Linked DNA regions of Homo sapiens: all the other regions are linked to region 3. Evidence: fine-mapped QTL for protein levels in blood plasma. A gene starts in region 3. Each other region holds a variant in brackets. All regions are shown on one strand. Distances are between the middles of the regions.

Region 1 (8,186 bases), 92 kb after region 3:
TTTTTCCAGGTCTCAAACTTTCCTGTGAGTCCTTCAGAAGCTTTTATCCTGGGCACCTTGCTCATAATGATAGAGACTTTCTCCCTACCTAAAGCAAATTTGATTAAAAGAAATCGCATCACCTATAGCTAGAGCAGGTGTTTTCTTTTTTTAAAAAAAAACTTTTATTTTAACTTCAGGGTACAAGTGCAGGTATGTTACATAGGTAAACTGGTGTCACATAGGTAAACTGGTGTCATGGAGGTTTGTTGTACAGATTATTTCATCACTCAAGTATTAAGCCTAGTACTTGGGTGATGAATTACTTAGTTATTTTTCCTGATCCTCTCTTTTCTCTGACCCTCCATCCTCTGAAAGTCCCCAGAGTGTTTTGTTCCCCTCTATGTGTTCATGTATTCTCATCATTTAGCTCCCACTTATAAGTGAGAACATGTAGTACTTGCTTTTCTTTTTCTGTTTTACTTTTCTAAGAATAATGAACTCCAGCTCCATCCATGCCCCTTCAAAGGATATGATCCCATTTTTTTATGGCTGCATAGTGTTCCATGGTGTATATGTACCACATTTTCTTTTTCCAGTCTATCCTTGGTCGGCATTTAGGCTGAGTCCATGTCTTTGGTGTTTTTCTAAGAGGTATTTTGCAGAGGGAATTGCTAGGATGCGTTGGCAAAGGAGGAGACTTCTGTCTACAGAGTTCTTGAATTTCATATTTCTGTGGCAACAAATAAGAGAATTACAGAGAGAGTGAAATAGTTAATGTTAACTACAGCTCAGACAGAGAAGCATTAAACTTTAAACCTCAAACTTTAAGCAGATTGTTCCATTTGCCAGCTCTCAGGGGCTTACTGTGCTGCCAGGCACTATACACAGTCCTTTTTACTTACTAGTTCCACTGCTCAGACAATTTCTTCAAATGACGTATAATCTCTTCTTATAGATGAGGAAGCAAGGTACAGAGAGGCTAAATAATTTGTTCAAAGTCACCCAGCAAGTGGATGGCAGAGGCAGAATTTGAACCCAGGTCTGTTTAGCTATAAAGCCCAACTTATCTTGTATGTACTATGCTGTATCATTTCAAAAAAAATACATAAAGCACATGACAAAGAAATTAAAACTGTAGCCTAAATCACAAAAGATTATAACCAGAATAGAGGCTTAACCTCTGTCACCCCAACTTAGTTTTCATTCATTCTCTGAGATAGGGAAACAATAGTCGATACCATTACTTGAACTACAGATGTGTGTGGTTATTTACTGTTTGATAGGACTATATATAATTGATTTCATTATATAAGTTTTGATCTTTGCAACTAAACTTTTTCTGTAATCTTTAGTCTTTGAGTGTCTTGAATTAGAAAGAACTTGCTCAGATACCATTCATATCCAAACTTAATGTATTCTGTTAATATTAACAGTCATTATCACTGTGCCCATAGTGGATGAGCCAGGAAAACCATTATCTCATACTAAAGAATTTCCCAAATGTTGGAATCTTGTTCAATAATTATACATTTCTCTGTGCTATTTACTATAGTATTATTTACTTGATATTCCTTTATTTCCTGTGTTTTAAATTCATAGTTATTTAAAAGGCAACTATATCACTATCGTAATTAGAATATCAGCATCTCTATAAATAGAAGGCAAACAACAAATATTAATGCAACGAAAAGGAAACAATATTTTAAAATTCTGGATAGATAGTATTAACTGCCCATGGAAAAGGTTTTGGACTTGCTTTGTTATTGTTAGAAAGGGAGATGAGCAAGTCTTTGAGAGCTGGTAAATGCACAATGGCATTGACCCCAAATTTCCTCCTTGATAAAATCTGAGGATTGAATGAAATTCTCATTCAATCCCAGCAAAAGGAGTAATTTTCTCACTAGATAATCAATATACTTATGTATGTGTTGTGAACCACATGAACACATCTTGCTATCACCCGTGACTGTCCTCCGCCTTGTGGTATCAGGCTTGAAATTAAGATTCAGCATTATGTGCTTCTTTGCCATCTGAAACTGGGAGAGTTTTTAATGGCCTAATCACAAGCTCCCCCCTCCTCCACTCTACTCCTGTGGATAAAGTCCTCCAGCCAAACAACACTACTTACCAGAGGAACCAGGCACAGTGTCTGTTTATCCCTCAATAGCAGGCTTTAATTCTGGGCCTGCAACATTATTAAAACAAGCCAAGCACGTGCTTCTGCAGGAATCAAGGGTCACCTCACCCTCTTGGTACTACAAAGCCTGCCTCCCACAACTCTGCTTGTTCACTGTGTTCCCAAATGCAACTCACCCCGCCGTCCTGAGTGGAGTGCAGTGTTCTTCCCCAGTCTGTGCATCTATGTGACTGATAAACTGCTGGGATATAATCTGCCCAGTGCTGGGCGTTGTGTGTTCTGCCATCCCTATAATTCCAGGGTGGGAATGCCTCCCTCACCAATGGAGTGAAGAAGAGACAATCAAAACATACTCCAGTTTGGGAAATAGTGCCATCCTATAGAATGGCACCCAAGCAGATCATCTTCCTATTTATAGGATCCCACTCCTTCCTTAAAGGAGCACCAGATCATCACTGGAACAGAAAGACTACTACAAGTGTCATTTGGGTAGTAAGTTCTTGAGATGAGGGAATCTTTTATCTCCTCAAGAGTCTTCATTTAACCTTATGAAGAGAAACAGTGAACTTGGTTTGGCACGCCATTGGTAGGTTTTTATCTACAAGGTCTGATGTGAGGACTTTTTATGCAAATTATCTTTTCTTATTGTCCTGCCAAAGTAGTTTTAACTCCTGTGAGCCCAACACTTAGCATTAAAACCTCTTATTTTCCAAAGATGACTGACAAAATGCTAAAAGTTGTGCTGTATGCAGTTAAAAGCATAGATTCTGGATGCTCAGGAATCAGACTGCCTGGGTTCAAATACAAACCACTTATTTGCGTGTGTTTGGGCAAATTTCTGAACCTCTCTGAGCCTCAGTTTTCCTACTAACAGTACCTTTGTCATGGGATTTCAGTGAATATTAAACGAGTTACATAGAAAGAGCTTAGAATAATACCTGGTACATAGCAAATGTTCAAGAAATGCTAGCTATTATTACTAGAGAGGCAGCAACACAGTATACCTTTAACACTTGTTAAGTAAGAACCAGAGGCAGTAAGAACCTGAGGAAAAAGGAAACTTGACATGCATATACTGAGGGGAGTATGGGCATAGGGTACCATCCAGAGCTGCTGGGACACTGCAAGGGAGGTTTATAGAAGACAGAAGGCTCTGGGTGCCTGGGAAAGGAGGAAGAAATATGAAACAGGCAAAAAAGATGGGTGCAAATAAGCTTCACCACCCTTATCATTTTCATGCAGGCTGGCTTGTCATTCCACATATTTGGCATTCAAGAAAAGATGTTGGTTACAAGTTTAACAGATTGACAGAATTTTATGCTGTCTTCCTTCTCTGATGCATTCTTGCATCCTCCCTTGCTTTGTAGTTACTTCTGTGCATATAATTTTCTACTAGTTTTTAACCTCTGTAAGGGCAAGAAATATATCTTCTGATTTTTTTTTAATTTCCCACTGAAAGTAGCACAGTACCTAGCACAAAGAAAGGAGATAATCAAATACATGTTGAATTAATTGCTGTGGGTGCTAGTTTGGATACTAATTGAACTTCTGTCATCAACAAACTGAAAGCACCGTTGTTTAAACAAAATAGAAGTTTAGTAATATTTTTCTGTCATGTAACAGCTGAAAAGTAGGTGGCTTTGTTTCATGATGTCATTCAAAGAACCAGGATCCTTTAATCCCATGGCTTTATTACTCCCTAGGGATTTGCCTTCATCTTGGGGTGGTCAATGTTGTTCAGTCCAAGGAGTGAGGAAAAGAGCAGTGTAGGGGTTGCAGTTTCCTTTGGGGAATAGCTTCTGCTCACACACTCTTGGCCAACACTCAACCACACAAACTCACTTAGCTGGGAGAAGTGGACTGTAGAAGAGCAGCCATTCACTCAACTAATACTCAGAGATATAAAGAAAGAAGGAGAGAACGCTGTTGTGAAATGATTAGAAGTCTCAGCACACTTTGCTAATTCTGGAATATTCACCCAACACTTACTTTGTGTGCCTTAAGTGCTTCTTAAGAATAGAGATTAGATGGGAAAGGAGAGGATGAGAATTTTGACTCTAGCACCCTCCTGACATAAGGAGGCTTTGTGTGCCTCAGCCTCTGAACCAGGACCTCTATGACTGACACCCAGCTATTCCAGGAAGTCACAGATCCTCAGGTGATTTTTGGTCTGAGGCCAAATGGCCTGTGCCATCCATACCTTGAAAGCATTTTTTTTCCCCATGAAAGAAAAATGTAAAGGCAAAGGGGAGCTGGAATTACATGTTAAACATGGTATGATCCTTCAAGAAATAAATGTGCATATTTTTGTTTCTGATGCAGTTCTACCAAATATAGAAAGCATTTCAGAATTCTCTAAGAGCAATCCTAGATTGGAATGTAAATGTAGACTGGAGAAATAATTTTTAGCACAAATAGACAGACACATAAATGTGAACAGTCTTTCTAATTCAGGAGTTTTCCATTTTTAAGTCATGAAAACTTTGCAATTAAAAAATTTTGAAGCATGAATCAAATGACTAAACTTTACTGATGTGAATGTACAAAGTAAATGACAATAAAACTAACAGTCCGTGTTTGGGGACAATCCATGACTGTCGGATAGTCGGAGGTTTTAGAGTTGGAATAACTTTTCTCTTCTTTCTTTGCTTTTTACCTGATTCATGCAATTCAATTATAAGGCAGTCTGCCTGTATGTGGTCACAAAG[A/C]CTTTCTGTGCTCATTTTTTAGCTTCTTAATTATACTTGAGGATAATTGCCCTAATATAGTATGTAAATGGGAGTGTAATTGTTGAGTTAGGAGAATAGAAAATAACTGATTTCAGAAATAATATTCGTATGAAATGTAATCATATAAAAATTTGAATAATATTACACACATACACACACACATACACACATTATCTTTAAAAAAAATTCCTTAAAAGTCTAGGGTTATTCTTTAGCTGAATCTCTTTGAGTTTGAGGTTAGAATAATTGGGGTACTCTTATTCACCCTGATATGATTTCTCCATGAATGTACCCAAACAACCAGCAGCTGAAGGGATAATGCTGTGTTCACAGACTCTGCAGCCTGGGATCACAGGACACTGACAGAAAGCTGCATTTCCACAAAGCAACCTTTCCCTCTGAAGGCATCTTTCCCCTCTGATGGGTCACTCTGGGGGAGCTGCTCGTGCAGGTCTTAGCACGGCTGCCTCCTGTTACTGAAGTGTCAGCTCTTCTTAAAGAAGCTCACTGTGACTATCTTTCTTAAAGTCACTCTTTACCTTACCCCAGTCACTTGGTGATATCATCATTTGATTGTCCTGTCTGTCTCTGCTTCCATTAGACTGTGAACTTGATGGCAGGAACCATATCTGTAGGGCATAGCTATGTCTCCTGTGCCTAGAACAGTGCTTGGCACTGAACAAGTACAGGATAATTGTTGGTTGGATAAACAAGTGATCCTTGATTGTGATTTATACTTCATCCTGGTGACTTTTACTTTACTATATCTTCACAATGAAAAGTGTGATTATTGTAAATGGCACATTTATTACTTAGGAGATGCAGCTATTGAAGGAGAGGCCCAGAGAATTTAGGCAATGTTCCCAAGGCACACAGGATGTGTGCAGCTGGAATCACAGGCCAAGTCCTTCCTAGTCTAGGACTCCTTCTCTTTCAGCTCCCTCAAGTTGCCTCCCAATCTGATGAGAATCCAGTGATGTAAGGTATGTGAAAATACCTTGGAGAGTGTAATGGATTATGGAGGAGATATCTTTATATATTTTTTAGTATACAAAATTCTCACTGTTGAAAATAGTTATTTAATGGCAAAGTGTTTTCAGCCTCTAAGTAGAAATAGAGATGCTGTCAGGGTACTCGTTGGAAAAAAACTATGCTAAGACAATGCCTTTCCACAGCAATGTAGCTTAGCGTGTCCATTAATAAATTGGTTCGCAGTTGTGTGAGCTTGCAGAACTGATATTTCTAGTGATCTGAAACAAGTGTGGAGAAGGTGATGAATAGAATTTAGTGAGGTTTTTTGCTTAATCATTGATTTAAATGCATTTTTATATTGTTGAAATCATCACAAATTTACAGAAAAGTTGCAAGAAAAATACATAGACCTTTTTTCTTGAAGCTTTTGAAAGAAAGTTTCCAAACGGGTGTCCCATCATTTCCAAATACATTAGTGTGTATTTCCCACAAAAATGACGTTTCCAATATAACCACAATACAACTATTAAAATCAGAATATTAATAGTTATACATTATTTCCATTGAGTTCTTAGGCCTTATTTAACTGTCTACCCCATAGCAAAATAATTTTATAAATTGAGTTTGTATTTCATTTTAAATTTTCTTTAAAAACCTCAAAAAGAGCCATTGTCTAAATAAATTACAAATAATTGATATTTTTTGTGGCAAGTTAGTTTTGGCCACATTACAACTATATATGGTCACTTAGATGTAGAAGAAATAAAATTCTGATGGTTTTAATATTCCTTAATTTATTCCTTAATATATCTTAACATTTTGACAGAACTGAAGGCACCTGTACTCACCGTGAGCTTGTCTGACTGCCACTCATGTGAGGACCTTCTTCAGAGTATTCTTTATGCAACAGTTTCTATCTTCTCCTCAAGACAGTTCTGCTGGTGCCACAGACTAGTCTGAGCTGAGGGTTTCTTACTTTCTCAGGAACAAACAGAGAACCCCAACCCCCACCCCCAATCCCTCCCGTGTTCATCTCCACAGCTGGTCATGTGCTCTGTCAGCAGGTTTTTAAGCAAACAGTAGGTTTTGGTTTTTGTTTTTGTTTTGAGACAGAATCTTGCTCTGTCACCAGGCTGGAGTGCAGTGGTGCGATCTTGGCTCACTGAAGCCTCTGACTCCCTGGTTCAAGCGATTCCCCTGCCTCAGCCTCCCGAGTAGCTGGGACTACAGGCCTGCACCACCATACCCAGCTAATTTTTGTATTTTTAGTAGAGATAGGGTTTCACCATATTGGCCAGGATGGTCTCAATCTCTTGACCTCGTGATCCATGAAGCAGCCTTAGAATAGTCATGCTATCTAAGGCAGATACATTACCGGAATGTAGTTCTATTACTTAATACAACATGCAAGAACTTAACACATGTCTCCATTCATTCCCCCCAAGTAAGCAGAATTCTACTGAGAAAACAGTATTGTGTTTTTTTTTTTCTGATTACAAGAATGACATAAGTAGTTATATTTTATTTAGATAGTATGGAAAAACAAGTAAATAGATAAAAATGTTCAGAAGACATAATCTTCGTAAACATAAATACATACTATAACCTGTTTTTTTACTTAGGAAAAAGTTATTAATTATGTCCTATATTATTGATATGTCATACACCAGAATTTCCCAAACTTTGTTCTAGTGAAACCAGGGCATTGAAATTGATAATGAAATAAGTGAGGGAAATGCAGTATCCTGTACTTCCTTAAATAAAGTAAGCTGTTTAATTTGCTTTAACTTGGTGTTTCCCAAACCATTGTTCATAGGACTGACTTTTGATCAAAATCTTTTAACACACTTTGATAAATACTCTTATTTCTAAAACATATACTTTAATGACTGGAGCATGTAGTCCACATTATGTCAGTTAAGAATTAATTCACATCCAAATGGCAGAAGATTCAATCACAGTAGTTCCACCAGATAGGAGTTTATTTTTCTCATGTCATAAGAAGCGTGGCTCTGGAGCAGCTTCTCAATGGTGTCATAGGAGCTCTTTCTGTCTCGTTCCACCATTTTAAAATTTCTACTTCACTGTTGTAAAATGCCTGCTACACCTCCAGGTATTAATTACCTAGTCTAGGCAAGAAGAAAAAGGAAGGGGTCAGGAAGACGGAAGGACCAAAGGGAACGACAGCCTTTGGCCAGACTGTCCCTTAAAAACCAATCATATTTCTTGGAAATCTCACCAGTAACTTCTACCCATGCCTCATTGGCCAGTTCTGGGCTACTTGATTACCCTGAGCTACAAGCATGTCTGGGAAGGTGAGTGCTTTAGCTTTCCAGCCCCCGCAATTGAGGAGGTCAGGAGAGGGG
Region 2 (8,186 bases), 82 kb after region 3:
GGGAATATCACACTCTGGGGACTGTGGTGGGGTCGGGGGAGGGGGGAGGGATAGCACTGGGAGATATACCTAATGCTAGATGACACATTAGTGGGTGCAGCGCACCAGCATGGCACATGTATACATATGTAACTAACCTGCACAATGTGCACATGTACCCTAAAACTGAGAGTATAATAAAAAAAAAAAAAAAAAAAAAAAAAAAAAGTCAGGAAGCAACAGGTGCTGGAGAGGATGTGGAGAAATAGGAACACTTTTACACTGTTGGTGGGACTGTAATCTAGTTCAACCACTGTGGAAGTCAGTGTGGCGATTCCTCAGGGATCTGGAACTAGAAATACCATTTGACCCAGCCATCCCATTACTGGGTATATACCCAAAGGATTGTAAATCATGCTGCTATAAAGACACATGCACATATATGTTTATTGTGGCACTATTCACAATAGCAAAGACTTGGAACCAACCCAAATGTCCAACAATGATAGACTGGATTAAGAAAATGTGGCACATATACACCATGGAATACTATGCAGCCATAAAAAATGATGAGTTCATGTCCTTTGTAGGGACATGGATGAAGCTGGAAACCATCATTCTCAGCAAACTATCACAAGGACAAAAAACCAAACACCACATGTTCTCACTCATAGGTGGGAATTGAACAATGAGAACACATGGACACAGGAAGGGGAATATCACACACTGGGGACTCTTGTGGGGTGGGGGGAGGGGGGAGGGATAACACTGGGAGATATACCTAATGCTAAATGACGAGTTGATGGGTGCAGCACACCAACATGGCACATGTATACATACGTAACAAACCTGTACGTTGTGCACATGTACCCTAAAACTTAAAGTATAATAATAATAAAAAATAGTAATAATTTATGGGACCAGGCACCATAAAATGTAAAGATATTTTTTTCTTATAGTTACTATTAACCAGTCTTATTTTTCAATTTGTCTTATACAAACCAACAAAAATCCACATCTTATTTCTTTCTAAAACAAAAATCTTATGTGAGTTAATGTACATAACAGATAAAAGCTGAAGGGTGTGGAACTTGGGCTGCCCCTAAGCACATGCTCAGAACCCTCCAAATGCCACTGAGTACAGCATGGAAACTGCCCAACTGGCCCACGGCTCTGATTTCCAATGATGGGAACTGAGGGTCAGAGGCAGTTCATGGTTCACTGAGAAACCCAGTTCTCTTCTGGAGTGTGTCTCAAGTCAGTGAAATTGGTTTCTGTCTTAGCAGGGTAAAAAACATTGTTACATGATTGTGATTTCTCTGATCTCAAGAAAAATGCTTAGTCTTTTCTTTTTTCTTTTTACTTAGCTTGGCTGTTTCTCTTCTCACCCTGCCCTGCTTCCTTCAGTAATTAGTTTTGGAAAGAAAGAACTCACATAGTAAAAATGACCTGGAAACTCAAATTAAAATTTTTTTCTTGCCCACATGGATTTGTGTGATTCATAGTTGCTTTAAACCCGTAGAAATGTGCTTGCACAAATTAGTAACAACTTTTCATAAACAGACTTCATTGTTCACTGCTAAACATATTCCAGTCAGGCTTTAATTGAAAGGAAAGATATGATAGGAATCTATCTCCATGGCAGAAATGCTTTAAAAGTACTTTATGCTTCTGCAATGATCTGTGACAGCTTTTGAAGATGTTTGGGGGTTTGTGTTTCACAACTACCTAGGGAGATGAGAGAGAAGAAATAGAAAGGACAGAAAGCTAAATATGTGGATTTTGAATGATCAGCTTACATGGCTACAGCTGGGTGAGTCTTCGCTTAATTATATGCAGAGGTGAAACTAATGGTGCTGTGATTATGAAACTGAAACTGGTTAGGAAGGTAAATTACCTCTCTCCGTGTGTAACTTGCCAACCTTGTGGATTAGTCTCTACCTGAATAGAAGACCACATGTAAGGTCTTGATAAGAATAATAAAGACTTATAGTTACGTAGAATTAATCTTGAGTTAAAACAAGGTTCCTCGGGCCATCTCACAAGTCTAAGGGAGACCAAGCATCAATGTTGCTGTAGGCCAGGCATGGTGGCTCATGCCTGTAATTCCAGCATGTTGTGAGGCCGAGGCAGGTGGATCACTTGAGGTTAGGAGTTCGAGACCACCCCAGCCAATATGGTAACAGAGCAAGACTCTGTCTCAAGAAAAAAAAAAAAAAAGTTGTTGCTGTTTAAATGGTATGTTTTGTTAGAAAGTGTTAGAAAGTGTGTCAGCACTGATTTGCTCAGTTATACCATGATAGAGACCTTAATAAGCCATACTCTATGGTGCTCTTTGCTGCTGTAGTGACAGAGTAAAGGGGGGGCAGTCAGTATGTCTAAGGAACCAGGCCGGCAAATCTTAGAACAGGTTTTGGGCTCAGTCAATACAAAGGAGGCTTCTTTGATGGCAAGTAAGCACTGAAGCAAAGTAACTGGGGTCCAAGATTCCATGTTCGAACATAAATAGAAACTAAGTAAATTTAGGGTGTTCCTCTTTATTTCTATTTTTTTCTGATTTGAGAGGGGATTATTGCTTATTGTTAAAAAATTCAAGATACACAGAAAAGTATAAGATGGAAAAAATTGTTCCATGCCACAAGCCAGCTGTAATGTCAAAGAGATTTTGACATTCTGAGATTTTGACATTCTACTTATGAGATTTTGACATTATACCTGTCTACTTGTTGTACTTGGGATTACCTAAATACATTTCATAACTTGGACAGAGTTCTTGTGAAAATACTAATTAATAGTAAAGCTGGGCCAAAAAAAGTTATTCTCATCAAAAGTACATTTATTTTTTCTCTGGCCATGTGCTTAATCTCCCTATTCTGGTATGTGGGAGGGAGGGCAATGCATCTGTGGTTAAACAATGAAATAGCTGTTACTCCCAATTACTTAAGCTGGCAGTTAATTAATCCAACTGGGAGTGTTTCCAAGTAATTAGAGAGCATCTCAGGACCCACAGACTCACGAACATGTTAAGACATTAATATTCCTAGTATCTTTTATTTTTAGAGGCTTTGCTTTTCACCATATCAGATATATTAAAATATAACCACACTTCCCATATTATGTATAATTTTTGGCTGTTTAATTTATGAAAGAATTTTTATAAAGTTGGGAGTTGTTAAGAGTTGATAGTCTTATGGTGTGAAGTTCATTATGTTATTGTTATGATAGCTGAGCTGCAGACAAGTTGGCATCTGTGTTAGTTTTCTATAGCTGCTGTAACAAACTGGGTGGCTTAATACAAGTGAAATTTATTCTCTTGGAATTATGGAGGCCAGAAGTCCAAAATCAATTTTGGCTGGCAAGATGGCCGAATAGGAACAGCTCCAGTCTGCAGCTGCCAGCGAGATTAATGCAGAAGGCAGGAGATTTCTGCATTTCCAACTGAGGTACCCAGCTCATCTCACTGGGACTGGTTAGACAGTGGGTGCAGCCCATGGAGGGTGAGCAGAAGCAGGATGGGCGTCACCTCATGTGGGAAGTGCAAGGGCTTGGGGAACTCCTTCCCCTAGTCAAGGGAAGCCTTGAGGGACTGTGCCATGAGTAACAGTGCATTCCAGCTCAGATATTGTGCTTTTCTCATGGTCTTTGCAACCTGCAGACCAGGAGATGCCCTTGGATGTCTACACCACCAGGGCCCTGGGTTTCAAGTACAAAACTGGGCAGCCATTTGGGCAGACATCAAGCTAGCTTCAGGTTTTTTTCATACCACAGTGGCTACTGGAATGTCAGCGAGACAGAACATTTGACTCCCCTGGAAAGGGGGCCGAAGCCAGGGAGCCAAGTTGTCTGGCTCAGCAGATCCCACCTCCATGGGGCCCAGCAAGCTAAGATCCACTGGCTTGAAATTCTCGCTGCCAGCACAGCAGTCTGAAGTCAAA[T/C]TGGGAAGCTCCAGCTTGGTGGGGGGAGGGGCATCCACCATTACTGAAGCTTGAGTAGGGATTTTTCCCCTCACCATGTAAACAAAGCCACTGAGAAGTTCAAACTGGGCAGAGCCCACCACAGTGCCACAAAGCTGGTGTATCCAGACTGCATCTCTAGACTCCTCCGCTCTGGGTGGGTCATCTCTGAAAGAAAGGCAGCAACCCCAGTCAGGGGCTTATAGATAAAACTCCCACCTCCCTGAGACAGAGCACCTGGGGGAAGGGGCGACTATGGGCGCAGCTTCAGTAGACTTAAACGTTTCTGCCTGCCAGTTCTGAAGACAGCGGTGGATCTCCCAGCACAGCGCTTGAGCTCTGCTAATAGACAGACTGCCTCCTCAAGTGGGTCCCTGATCCCTGTGCCTCCTGACTGGGAGGCAGCTCCCAGCAGGGGTCAACAGACACGTCATACAGGAGAGGTCCAGCTGCCATCTGGTGGGTGCCCCTCTGGGATGAAGCTTCCAGAGGAAAGAACAGGCAGCAATCTTTGCTGTTCTGCAGCCTCCACTGGTGATACCCAGGCAAACAGGGTCTGGAGCAAACTCCAGCAGACTCCAGCAGACCTGCAGCAGAGGGGCCTGACTGTCAAAAGGAAAACTAAGAAACAGAAAGGAATAGCATCAATGTCAACAAAAAAGATGTCCACACAGAAACCCCATCCAAAGGTCACCAACATGAAAGACCAAAGGTAGATAAATCCATGAAGATGAGGAAAAACCAGCACAAAAAGGCTGAAAATTCCAAAAATCAGAATGCCTCTTCTCCTCCAAAGGATCACAACTCCTCACCAGCAAGGGAACAAAACTGGATGGAGAATGAGTTTGACGAATTGACAGAAGTAGACTTCAGAAGGTGGGTAATAACAAACTCCTCCAAGCTAAAGGAGCATGTTCTAACCCAAAGCAAGGAAGCTAAGAACCTTGAAAAAAGGTTAGAGGAGTTGCTAACTAGATTAAACAGTTTAGAGAAGAATATAAATGATCTGATGGAGCTGATAAACACAGCATGAGAACCTCATGAAGCATACATAGGTATCAATAGACAAATCAATCAAGTGGGAAGAAAGGATTTCAAAGATTGAAGATAAACTTAATGAAATAAAGTGTGAAGACAAGATTAGAGAAAAAGGAATGAACAAAGCCTCCAAGAAATATGGGACTATGTGAAAAGACCAAACCCATGTTTTATTGGTGTACCTGAAAATGATGGGGTGAATGGAACCAAGTTGGAAAACACTCTTCAGGATATTATCCAGGAGAAATTCCTCAATGTAGCAAGACAGGCCAGCATTCATATTCAGAAAATGCAGAGAACACCACAAAGATACCTCTTGAGAAGAGCAACCCCAAGACACATAATTGTCAGATTCACCGAGGTAGAAATAAAAGGAAAATGTTAAGGGCAGACAGAGAGAAAGGTTGTGTTAATCACAAAGGGAAGCCCATCAGATTAACAGTGGATCTCTCTACAGAAAGCCTATAAGCCAGAAAACAGTGGGGGCCAATATTCAACATTCTTAAAGAACAGAATTTTCAACCCAGAATTTCATACCCAGCCAAACTAAGCTTCATAAGTGAAGGAGAAATAAAATCCTTCACAGACAAGAAGATGCTGAGAGATTTTGTCACCACCAGGACTGCCTTGCAAGAGCTCCTGAGGAAAGCACTAAATATGGAAAGGAACAACCGGTACCAGCCACTGCAAAAACATACCAAATTATAAAGACCATTGAAACTATGAAGAAACTGCATCAACTAAAAAGCAAAATAACCAGAAAACATCATAATGACAGAATCAAATTCACACATAACAATATTAACCTTAAATGTACATGGGCTAAACACCCCAATTAAAAGACACAGACTGACAAATTGGATAAAGAGTCAAGCCCCATTGGTGTGCTGTATTCAGGAGACCCATCTCATGTGCAAAGACACACATAGGCTCAAAATAAAGGGATGATGGAATATTTACCAAGCAAATGGAAAGCAAAAAAAAAAAAAAAAAAAAAGCAGGGTTGCAAACCTAGTCTCTGATAAAACAGACTTTAAAACAACAAAGATCAAAAAAGACAAAGAAGGGCATTACATAATGGTAAAGGGATCAATGAAACAAGAAGAGCTAACTATTCTCAATATATATGCAACCAATACAGGAGCACCCAGATTCATAAAGCAAATTCTTAGAGACCTACAAAGAGACTTAGACTCCCACACAGTAATAGTGGGAGACTTTAACACCCCACTGTCAATGTTAGACAGATCAATGAGACAGAAAATTAAGAAGGATATTCAGGACTTGAACTCAGCTCTGGACCAAGCAGACCTAATAGACATAAAAGAACTCTTCACTCCAAATCGACAGAATATACATTCTTCTCAGCACCACATCACAGTTATTCTAAAACTGACCACATAGTTGGCAGTAAAATACTCCTTAGCAAATGCAAAAGAATGGAAATCACAACAGTCTCTCAGCCTACAGTGCAATCAAATTAGAAGAAGGATTAAGAAACTCACTCAAAAACATACAACTACATGGAAACTGAAAAACCTGCTCCTGAATGACTACTGGGTAAATAACAAAATTAAGGCAGAAATAAATAAGTTCATTGAAACAAATGAGAACAAAGGCACAATGTACCAGAATCTCTGGGACACAGCTAAACAGTATGTAGAGGGAAATTTACAGCACTAAATGCCCACATGAGAAAGGGGAGAATGATCTAAAATCGACACCCTAACATCACAATTAAAAGAACTAGAGAAGCAAGAGCAAACAAATTCAAAAGCTAGTAGAAGACAAGAAATAACTAAGATCAGAGCAGAACTGAAGGAGATAGAGACATAAAAAATGCTTCAAAAAATCAAGGAATCCAGGAGCTGGTTTTTTGAAAAGTGTACCAAAATAAAAAGACCACTAGCCAGATTAATAAAGAAGAAAAGAAAGAAGAATCAAATTGACAAAAAATGATAAAGGGGATATCACCACTGATCCCACAGAAATACAAACTACCATCAGAAAATACTAAAAAAACCTCTATGCAAATAAACTAGAAAATCTAGAAGAAATGGACAAATTCCTGGACACATACACCCTTCCAAGACTAAACAAGGAAGAAGTCAAATCCCTGAAAAGACCAATAACAAGTTCTGAAATTAAGGCAGTAATTAATAGCTTACCAACCACAAAAAGCCCAGGACCATACAGAGTTACTACCAAATTCTACCAGAGGTACAAAGAGGAGCTGGTACCATTCCTTCTGAAACTATTCCAAACAATAGAAACAGAGTGACTCCTCCCTAACTCATTTTATGAGGCCAGCATCATCCTGATACCAAAACCTGGCAGAGACACAAACAAAAAAGAAAATTTCAGGCCAATATCCCTGATGAATATTGATGCAAAAATCCACAATAAAATAATGGCAAACTGAATCCAGTAGCACATCAAAAAGCTTATCCATCACCATCAAGCCGGATTCATCCCTGGGATGCAAGGCTGGTTCAACATACGCAAATCAGTAAACATAATCCATCACATAAACAGAACCAATGATAACAACCACATGATTATCTCAATAGATGCAGAAAAGGCCTTTGATAAAATTCAGTGCCCCTTCATGTGAAAAACTCTCAATAAACTAGGTACTGATGGAACGTATCTCAAAATAATAAAAGCTATTTATGACAAACCCGCAACTGATATCATACTGAATGGGCAAAAGCCAGAAGCATTCCCTTTGAAAGTCAGCACAAGACAAGGATGCCCTCTCTCACCACTCCTATTCAACATAGTATTGGAAGTTCTGGCCATGGCAATCAGGCAAGAGAAAGAAATGATAGGTATTCAAATACAAAGAGAGGAAGTCAAATTGTCTCTGTTTTCAGATGACATGATTGTATATTTAGAAAACCCCATCGTTTCAACCCCAAATCTCCTTAAGCAGATAAGCAACTTCAGCAACGTCTCAGAATACAAAAATCAATGTGCAAAAACCACAGGCATTCCTACACACCAATAATAGAAAAACAGAGAGCCAAATCATGAGAGAACTCCCATTCACAATTGCTACAAAGAGAATGAAATACCTAGGAATCCAACTTACAAGGGATGTGAAGGACCTCTTCAAGGAGAACTACAAACCACTGCTCAACCAAATAAGAGAGGACACAAATGGAAAAACATTTTATGCCCATGGATAGTAAAAATAAATATTGTGAAAATGGC
Region 3 (8,161 bases):
CAAGAGGTAGATTTCACCTTTTTTTTAACTCCTTTAACATATCATTCTGCATCTATGAAAGATTTTTTGAAGAATTATTTTAAGCTCATCCTCCCTCTCTTCTCCAGCTTTGCTGCTTCTCATTTCTTACTCTTTCCTGTCACCATTTCTCCTTACCAAGAAGTTGGGGGAAGGAGGGAAAATGACCACGTAAAGCTGTGTTAGTTTGTTGTAAACTCATTAAGCATTCATTATTTGGCTGGGTGCGGTGGCTCACACCTGTAATCTCAGCACTTTGGGAGGCCGAGCTGGGTGGATCACCTGAGGTCGAGAGTTCAAGAACAGCATGGCCAACATGGGGAGACCCCGTATCTACTAAAAATACAAAAATTAGCTTGGCGTGGTGATGCATGTCTGCAATCCCAGTTACTTGGGAGACTGAGGCAGGAGAATCACTTGAACCCGGGAGGCAGAGTTTGCAGTGAGCCAAGATTGCGCCATTGCACTCCAGCCTGAGCAACAGAGTGAGACTCCTCTGTCTCAAAAACAACAACAACAACAACAACAACAACAAACATTCATTTTTTGAGTTAATTTTTGAATTTATTTCTTTGCATTCTGGGAAACTAGGTAGCTCATTTATTTAAATCTTCAAATCACAGTACTTTGTTTATATTCAACACGTTTTTGTATCCTGGGTTACGTGCTATCTTGGTCTCTAAAGAGAGTTGAAGGAGGAAGGAGAAATAAAAAGGATGGAGAAGGTGGTCAGAGAGGTGTAAGGGAGGTGTAAGGGCATATGAAGAGGCAAAATTGTACCCAAATCCATGGAATTTTAGCTCAGTGTTACTTTCCCAGCAGAGCCTTGCTCTGTGCCTTTCTTTCTCTACTTCAACTATTAGTAAGAGAGGGTTAGTAAGGATGCCTTTTCCTACTGGTTCTCTCTATGTACCATGTAAAATTTTATAATGACATAACAACTATCAGTGGAACATGGTGGCTCATGCTTGTAATACTAGCATTTTGGGAGGCTGAGGAGGAAAGATTACTTGAGGCCAGGAGTTCGAGACTAGTCACATAGTGAGACACCCATCTCTACCAATACTACTACTACTAGTACTCCTACTCCTACTACTATCAACTATAATTCACTGAACAGTTTCTAATACACCAGATTTTTTCCTTGAAGATATGTATTATTGGGAATCATAAAAACTGTGCAAGTCATTACCATCACATTTTATCAATGAGGAAACTGAGGTTCAGAGAGGTAAGTAGTTTGTGGTTCAGTCATTGGGTGACACAGATCCAAATTGAACAGACTGAACAGATTCCAAAACCAATTGTACATAATATTCCAGCTCTGTTGTCCCACCTAGAGGAGTGTCTACCTTGCTGGAAGTCTGGGACCAAGTAGGAAGAGATGAAGCCACTGTGGCAAGGACTTTAGGAAGAGATGTCTAGGGCCACATAGGTGCTTTCTCACTTAGCCTACAACTAGGGCCAGCACAAAAGCCCAGATTTTTTAAAATCAGAAGTTACTTTTTGAAGTATGTTTCAATATGGCCAAAGAAAAAGATCATCATGGTGAACTGAAACTAACAGGTATAATGTCACAGAGACAATTATTTTTGAGGTTTAATAACATATGTTAAGCTGCCATTTAAAAGAGATAGCAAGTCAGCCGGGCGTGGTTGCTCACGCCTGTAATCCCAGCACTTTGGGAGGCCGAGGTGGATCTCCTGAGGTCAGGAGTTCGAGACCAGTCTAGCCAACATGGTGAAACCCCATCTCTACTAAAAAAAAACCACAAAAAATTAGCTGGGTGTGGTGGCAGGTGCCAGCAATCCCCAGCTACTTGGGAGGCTGAGACAGGAGAATTGCTTGAACCCGGAGGCAGAGGTTGCAGTGAGCAGAGATCACGCCATTGCACTCCAGCCTGGGGGACAAGAGCAAGATTTTGTCTCAAAAAACAAAATAAATAAAAATAAAAGAGATACAAATCAAACACATTGAGAAATACATATAAAAAGTGGATCCCCTAGACTGAAGAGGAAGATACAAGAAAGTAGGCAGGAAAAAAAATAACTACCTCCCTCAGAACAACTAGATTATAAAATACAATTACCTGAATACAACTTTTGAGCAGTGATTTTTCACTGATACATTCTTAGAAACCAATTCAGTAGTTTTAAATAAAATATTTGAAAGTTCTCTCTATGTAACTGTACCACTAATAATCTACAATGCATGATGCTTATCATTACTATAAAAATTACAATTTTAAAAATGCCTTTCATCATTTTCATTCACCCACTCTTATTAAATAAAGTTAATGGTCATTAGGAAATTTTCCTATACTACTGAATGCCTTAAAGCCTTCATTTGGAGAATACATGTTGGCCTAGAAGGAATGCATTCCAAAATTTTCCTTTCCATCATGGCGTGTGTCTGTTTATGTGTTGTGCCCTATATGTAACTACAAGTTTATTTTGTCCTGTCCAGAAGACGGGGAGGACGGTCCCAGCTGCAGGCTGTTCTGTGTGGGAAGAGAAAAAGGCTGATGCTTAAAGGCCCTCCAAAGGAATCTACTTAAGCCTCATACCAGATTTGGGAGGACTGGTTATACCTGCCTAAACCTGGCACAGGAAGAACAGCACTCAAGCAATTCCTACCTTGGGGTTAACTAGGAATACAAGTTTCACCTTGTGACTCTGGTGTAACTTTGGTTTATTTTTCTCTTAGTAACAGCTCAGCTTGCAAATGAAAGCACTGAGACGCAACTCAGTTACATGTTTGAGGACTCAGGAAAATCAATTCTTACCTTCCACTCTTCCAAATGTAATGGTTGTATTCCAGCTTTACCATGCCCCATAAGCAAATGACTTGAGAGAGAGAGGTGGTTGGGGGCTGGGGGAGAAAAAGAAGAAGGAGAAGGAGAGGGAAGAAGAGGAGGAAGAACAGAGAGAAAGAAAGTGAGGGGAAAAAAAAGAAACAAACAAAAAAAGACAGGAAAAGTCTCTTAACATTGAAGAGATTGGATATCCAGTGTCAGAAAATTTGGATTTTCTTGGGAGTACTTATTTTATTTATGGTGGTAAATAAAGCCCTCAAGGAAGGTTATTAATTTATCTGTCCTATTTAGTATATTAAATTATACTACTTCATATTCTAGTGGCCTGAAAAAGTTAATTTACCACTTGAATGGCATAAATGATGAATACTTACACCAAGTCCTGGAATTTTCCAATGCTCAACAAACATTTAGTACTTTTTGTTTAGGTCTCGCTTTTTTTTTTTTTTATTAGTATCTACGAAAAAGGAAAACAAAATTGTAGCATTCTGTTGGGGCTAACAGGACAGCTGTTGGCTAGGCTAAATGCCATCTTGGAGTAAGAGATACTTTAACTTAGGGCACTGGTGCTGAGAGATGGAGAGAATATCAGAAAAGAAAAATGCAGGGTGGAAGTGTTGAGAGGGAGGGAGATGATGTCAAAATCCATTGGCTTCCAGTGTTTCTGCTCTTTTTAGCTGGGGTGCAGTAACCTTCCATCTTACAACTTTGGGTTTCTTTAAACTTCATGCCTGCCCTCTCTACCAATGTTTTATGAGCTGTCATGTGGGACTAGAATGGGATTCTGAAAATTAAGAGCTGATTTTTATTCCACCGGATATATCAGTTGCCTGGGGCAGTAAAATAATTTAGTTTTGAAATGAAATGTTATTCGTGGGAGACAAGTGCACAACAATTTACTTAACTTAAACAGTAGGATGAGGAGGAAGAGGCAGACACCCAAACTACATTTCATATGTAAAATAAGGCTTACATGACTTTTGGATGCTATAGAAATAAAATTTCTGTACTGAGGGGCATAATTATCCACATAAATCTTATATGAGGAACACAGACCAGTACAAAAGCAGCTGTATCTTTTGGTTATCTTGGAGGCAATATATAACCACATAAGGTAAAATTGGATGCTGCTTGCTTTCTCTAAAAGCTGTGAGGATGTCTTTCTGTTCCAGAAATTGCTTAATGCAAGTAAATGAAAATATACTGAATACATGAGTAAATTCATAAACAGAAATACAAATGAAATTTCTAAAGTAGGTCCTGGTGAGCCCCAATTTTATGAATTATTAGAAGACAATGCACCCAGAAACTAAGACACTAGCTTGAAGACTTTTTTCATTTCTTTTCTTTTTTTTTTTTTTTTTTTTTGTTGCTGATGTTGTTGTTGTTGTTGTCGTTGTTTTGAAACAGTGTCTCACTCTTGCGCCTTGGCTGGAGTGAAGTGGCTCGATCTAGGCTCATTGAAGGCTCCATCTCCCAAGCTTAAGCGATCCTCCCCACCTCAGCCTCAGGGAATGGATGGGACTGCAGGTGCACACCACCATACCCGGCTATTAATTTACTTTTGTATTTTTTGTAGAGACGAGGTTTCGCTATGGCTTCAAGACTTTAAAAGGCAACAATGACTCTTTTGAAATTGCCTGCATTATCAAATGCCTGAAGTCAACCACAATGAATGGTGAGTCTGGTTTCTCCATGACACTAGCAATCCTCTGAAATAAAGGAAGTTAGAATTCCAGAACACGTTTGGGTCTCTGACTCTTCCTCGGTGGCTTCCAGGAGTTTAGGTCAGCCTGCAGGCCCGACCGGAACCCCCGACACCCCTCCACGCGGATTCTTTACATCTCCCTCCCTACCTTGTTTACGCCCTAGGGGGTAGGGAAATGAACAGTCAGTCAGGTGAGACCCAGCAGGGGGAGTGGTGAGCTGGTCCGAGGGCAGCCCGAATATGTCCCTGGGTGTGGGTATGGGTGTGGGGCAATTTGGGTGGGAGCAGCGTGGAGGCTCCCAGGACCAAGTCCTGCGCCTCTTTGGCGGGGTGTGTGCAGGAGGAGGGGGGATAAATAGGAGGCTCCCTCCTCCCGGCGACATTCACGGAGCCGGCCGGCCTCCCGCCCTGGGTGTTTCCCTGCCTTGTAGCCAGGGTGCCAGCCTGGGAAGTAGTTTCGTTTCCTTCTGCCTCCGGGATTAGTTTCCAGGCACCCTCTCAGGCGCCCGAGGCCCGGGAAGGGGGCGAAGAAGGAGGGAGACTTGTCTAGGGGCTGCCCGGCCCGGCAGAGCGGGGTTGATGGACCGGGCCGCCCGGTGCAGCGGCGCCAGCTCCCTGCCACTGCTCCTGGCCCTTGCCCTGGGTAAGTGGCCGTGCTGGGCACTGGAAACCAGGAGGAAAGTCTGGGGCTGGAGTCGCGGGGAGGGCGAACCCTGAACCGAGCTGGCATCTGGACAAGAGGGCGCGCTGGGGCTGGCAGGCGCGGGTTGGAGAACTTTGAAGGCTGGGAGAGCGCGAGGTTAAAGATCTGGCAATTGGGCACCTGGGGCTGCACCTGCTGGAGGCAGTCCCTAGACGCGTGAGAAGGCCCGAGGGCGGAAGCGATTCCGAGGTCCTCGCTGCCAGTGCTGCGAGCAGGCCGCCAGCTGCTGACTTGTGCGCACAGCAGAGGGCCTGGCGGCGCCGGCGGGCTGTCCACCGGGGTGAGGCGCTGTGCTCGCAAGTGAGGGTCGGGGGGTGGGGGCAGGGGCGAGCAGGGAAACCCACTAAAGAAGCTCACGTGGTAGTATAGACCAAGAAGCATATCCTGCAGGAGGCAGAAGAACGGGAACTCTTTGACTGAAGGTGTGATCACCTGGCGTTAGGGAAGAGTGCCAGCGGGAGGAGGAGTAGCAGGATGCCTAGAGCCCTCCAGAGGGTCTCTCCTGCCTCCTTAGGAGTCAGAACTCACAAAGCAGAGCTGGAACTTCAGATGTGGCTGGAAGCAGGCTTCCCCTTCCCCTCCACCGAGGGAAGGTAGTGAGAAGGCTTCTAAGTAGGAAAAAATCCCAACTCTTCAAAGCTTGCTCTCTGCATCATGGTCATTTTGCGGGGCAGAGAAGGGAAGGGAAACCAGTAACATTTTCTAATCTTAGCTGGGCTGTAGACACATCTGGGTTTGGAGCATTTATGTGGTAGGAGGAGAGTCTCCACAGCTGAAGTGTCACCACGATATCACTCCTACCTTCAAGCCTGGGAAGGGGACACCACAAATGAAAAAGAATGGGAATTCCTCTTATTGAGGAAAGAGAGGGGGAGCCTAAATGAAAACTTTCATTTGACTGTGTCCTTGGAGTAAGAGAGGTGGCTAAAAAGGTACAGTGAACTTGCTTGGAGGTGGATCAGACTTAGGACCAAGGTTAGAGAAAATAAACTTATTTAACAAACGCTGAAGAGGAAGGAGTCAGTAACAATTTAGTGGTAGAGTGAATGTGTACATTCATGAAGAAGAGCAATGGGGTTGAGACTTAACCCTAGAAATAGTACTGATGCTTTTGCCAGCATTGCTTGCAAGTAGCTGACATTCTCTTCCTCCACCGTGTCTAAACTATCCAACAGTCAAAGTATTCCCTGAGAATCTGTCGTAGTCAGCAAGGTGCTGAGGTATGTAGCAATGGAGGTGGGGAAAGGGCTCATGAGATTCCTAAAATAAAACATGATTCCTGCCCTAGAACTTGCACTGAATTTGGATATGCAAGCCCAGCAGGGTAACCTGTGGAAAAATTCACGGAATCAGAAAAGGGAGAAAGAGCTCAACAGCGGGGGCTGGAATAGTGGGGAAAGGCTGAATGGAGGACACGAATGCGTGCCTTGAGGCTTGGGTAGAGTTTGCAATAGTAGAGAGGAAAGAGGGAACAGAGACAAGGGAAAAAGCATTTAGTAAAGGGTTGGCGATGCGAATGAGCATGCTTTACTGGAAAGAGTAGAATTTCTGAGAGGCAGACAGATTATGAAGAACTGAAAAAGCCAGATTAGAATATTTGGAACAGAATCAATAAGCTATTAAACACACACCATCACAGGGCTTGACTGGGAGTGATATGATGCAAACAATGGTTTAAAGGTGATAAATCTGTCAGTGAGGTGCAGTATAGGAAGGGGGGGCGCCTGTGGGCCAGAGGACCTGATTGTCTCGTAGGTATAATCTGGGCATGAGCTACTTGGGGCCTAAATTAGGGTGATGTTTTAGCAGAGGTGTCATAGTAGAAATGACTATTGAAAGTCGATGGACATTCTTTCCCCTTTACTATCACAAAACTTGTCAAAAGACAGAAATGAAAATCAAAAAGCAAAACTCGAATCCAGTGCTATTGTACACTCAGGGTAACCTAAATGTACAACCGCCCTGTTAAATGATTGGCTTGGGAAATTGAATTTGGTCTCTAGATCCCCTTAAAGCTCTATTTCTTGCAAAATGCTAAGGAACGTAATTTGTTGGCATCGCTGTTTCCATTAAGTGGCCCTATTTCTGTCATACACACTTTACTTTTAAGTCCCCTTCCTAAATTATGTCACATGTTGTTCTATTTACTTTTTGAAAAGAATGTGAGCAATAAGATGCATGAGACACTAGTGTTTGTGTGTGTGTGTGTGTGTGTGTGTGTGTGTGTGTGTGAGATGGTGGAAATGCGATGAGAGTGGGCATTGAGCAGACATGAGCCCTGGTTCCAGCTCTACCACTTCATGACTCCGAGATGTCTGTAAGTTACAACTTTCTGGGCATTGTTTTTCTAATTTGTAAAATGAAGAGGTTTCATTAGATGGTGATGCCCTTTCCATGTCACATTCTTTTCAAAAAGTAAACAAAATAACATGTGATTTAAATTAGAAATGGCTTATGTCTATTACAAATGTAGATGCTCCTTAAATACATCTGGCATTTAGTAGATGCATCTTTACAGGATAATTTCCATTCTAACATATGCAAATTAGGTACTACTTTCTTTGAGAAATTTTATAAAGACAGAAGTGGGGTTGGAGATATAAAAAGAAGGTATACCATAAGCAGATTATATGGTACAAATACATTTAATATAAATATAAATTACACGTTTATGTGTTATCGATATTCTTTATATGCATTAATTTGGTTTAATTTTCTAAAACTGTTTAAAGGCATTTTCTAAGTCAGTAGAAATCCTGAGCCATTTAATCTTACTTTCTCAAAAAATGAGATTTTCCAAAATGGGCTCGTATTTCTCTACTGTATTTTCTTTTTCTTTTTCTTTTTCTTTTTTCTTTTTTTGAGACAGTCTCACTCTTTCGCTCAGGCTCAGTTACAGTGGCATGATCTCAGCTCA

Alleles and levels. Positions count from the first base shown, and alleles are read on the strand shown. Strength reflects both the effect of a copy and how common the allele is.
For the plasma level of the protein whose gene starts at base 4,923 in region 3, allele C in region 1 goes with a higher level than allele A (moderate association).
In carriers of allele T in region 2, the plasma level of the protein whose gene starts at base 4,923 in region 3 tends to be lower than with C alone (strong association).

What was found. PIP is the posterior inclusion probability: the model's chance that the variant is causal. Protein levels are from antibody-based Olink assays in UK Biobank. Linkage for the fine-mapping came from a reference panel and not from the study's own genotypes, which makes the PIPs less certain.
Region 1: its variant is fine-mapped to the plasma level of the BTC protein (UK Biobank, PIP above 0.99).
Region 2: its variant is fine-mapped to the plasma level of the BTC protein (UK Biobank, PIP above 0.99).

The regions. Positions count from the first base shown.
Region 1 is chr4:74,699,342-74,707,527 of GRCh38, reverse strand. No RefSeq gene overlaps it. Among named protein-coding and RNA genes, the nearest start is that of BTC, 91 kb to the left of the region's middle. The variant A/C (reference allele first, on the strand shown) is at 4,828.
Region 2 is chr4:74,709,561-74,717,746 of GRCh38, reverse strand. No RefSeq gene overlaps it. Among named protein-coding and RNA genes, the nearest start is that of BTC, 81 kb to the left of the region's middle. The variant T/C (reference allele first, on the strand shown) is at 3,915.
Region 3 is chr4:74,791,285-74,799,445 of GRCh38, reverse strand. It overlaps BTC (betacellulin), which reads left to right and starts at 4,923. Exons shown (of 6, transcript NM_001729.4): 1 at 4,923-5,184. The coding sequence starts at 5,121.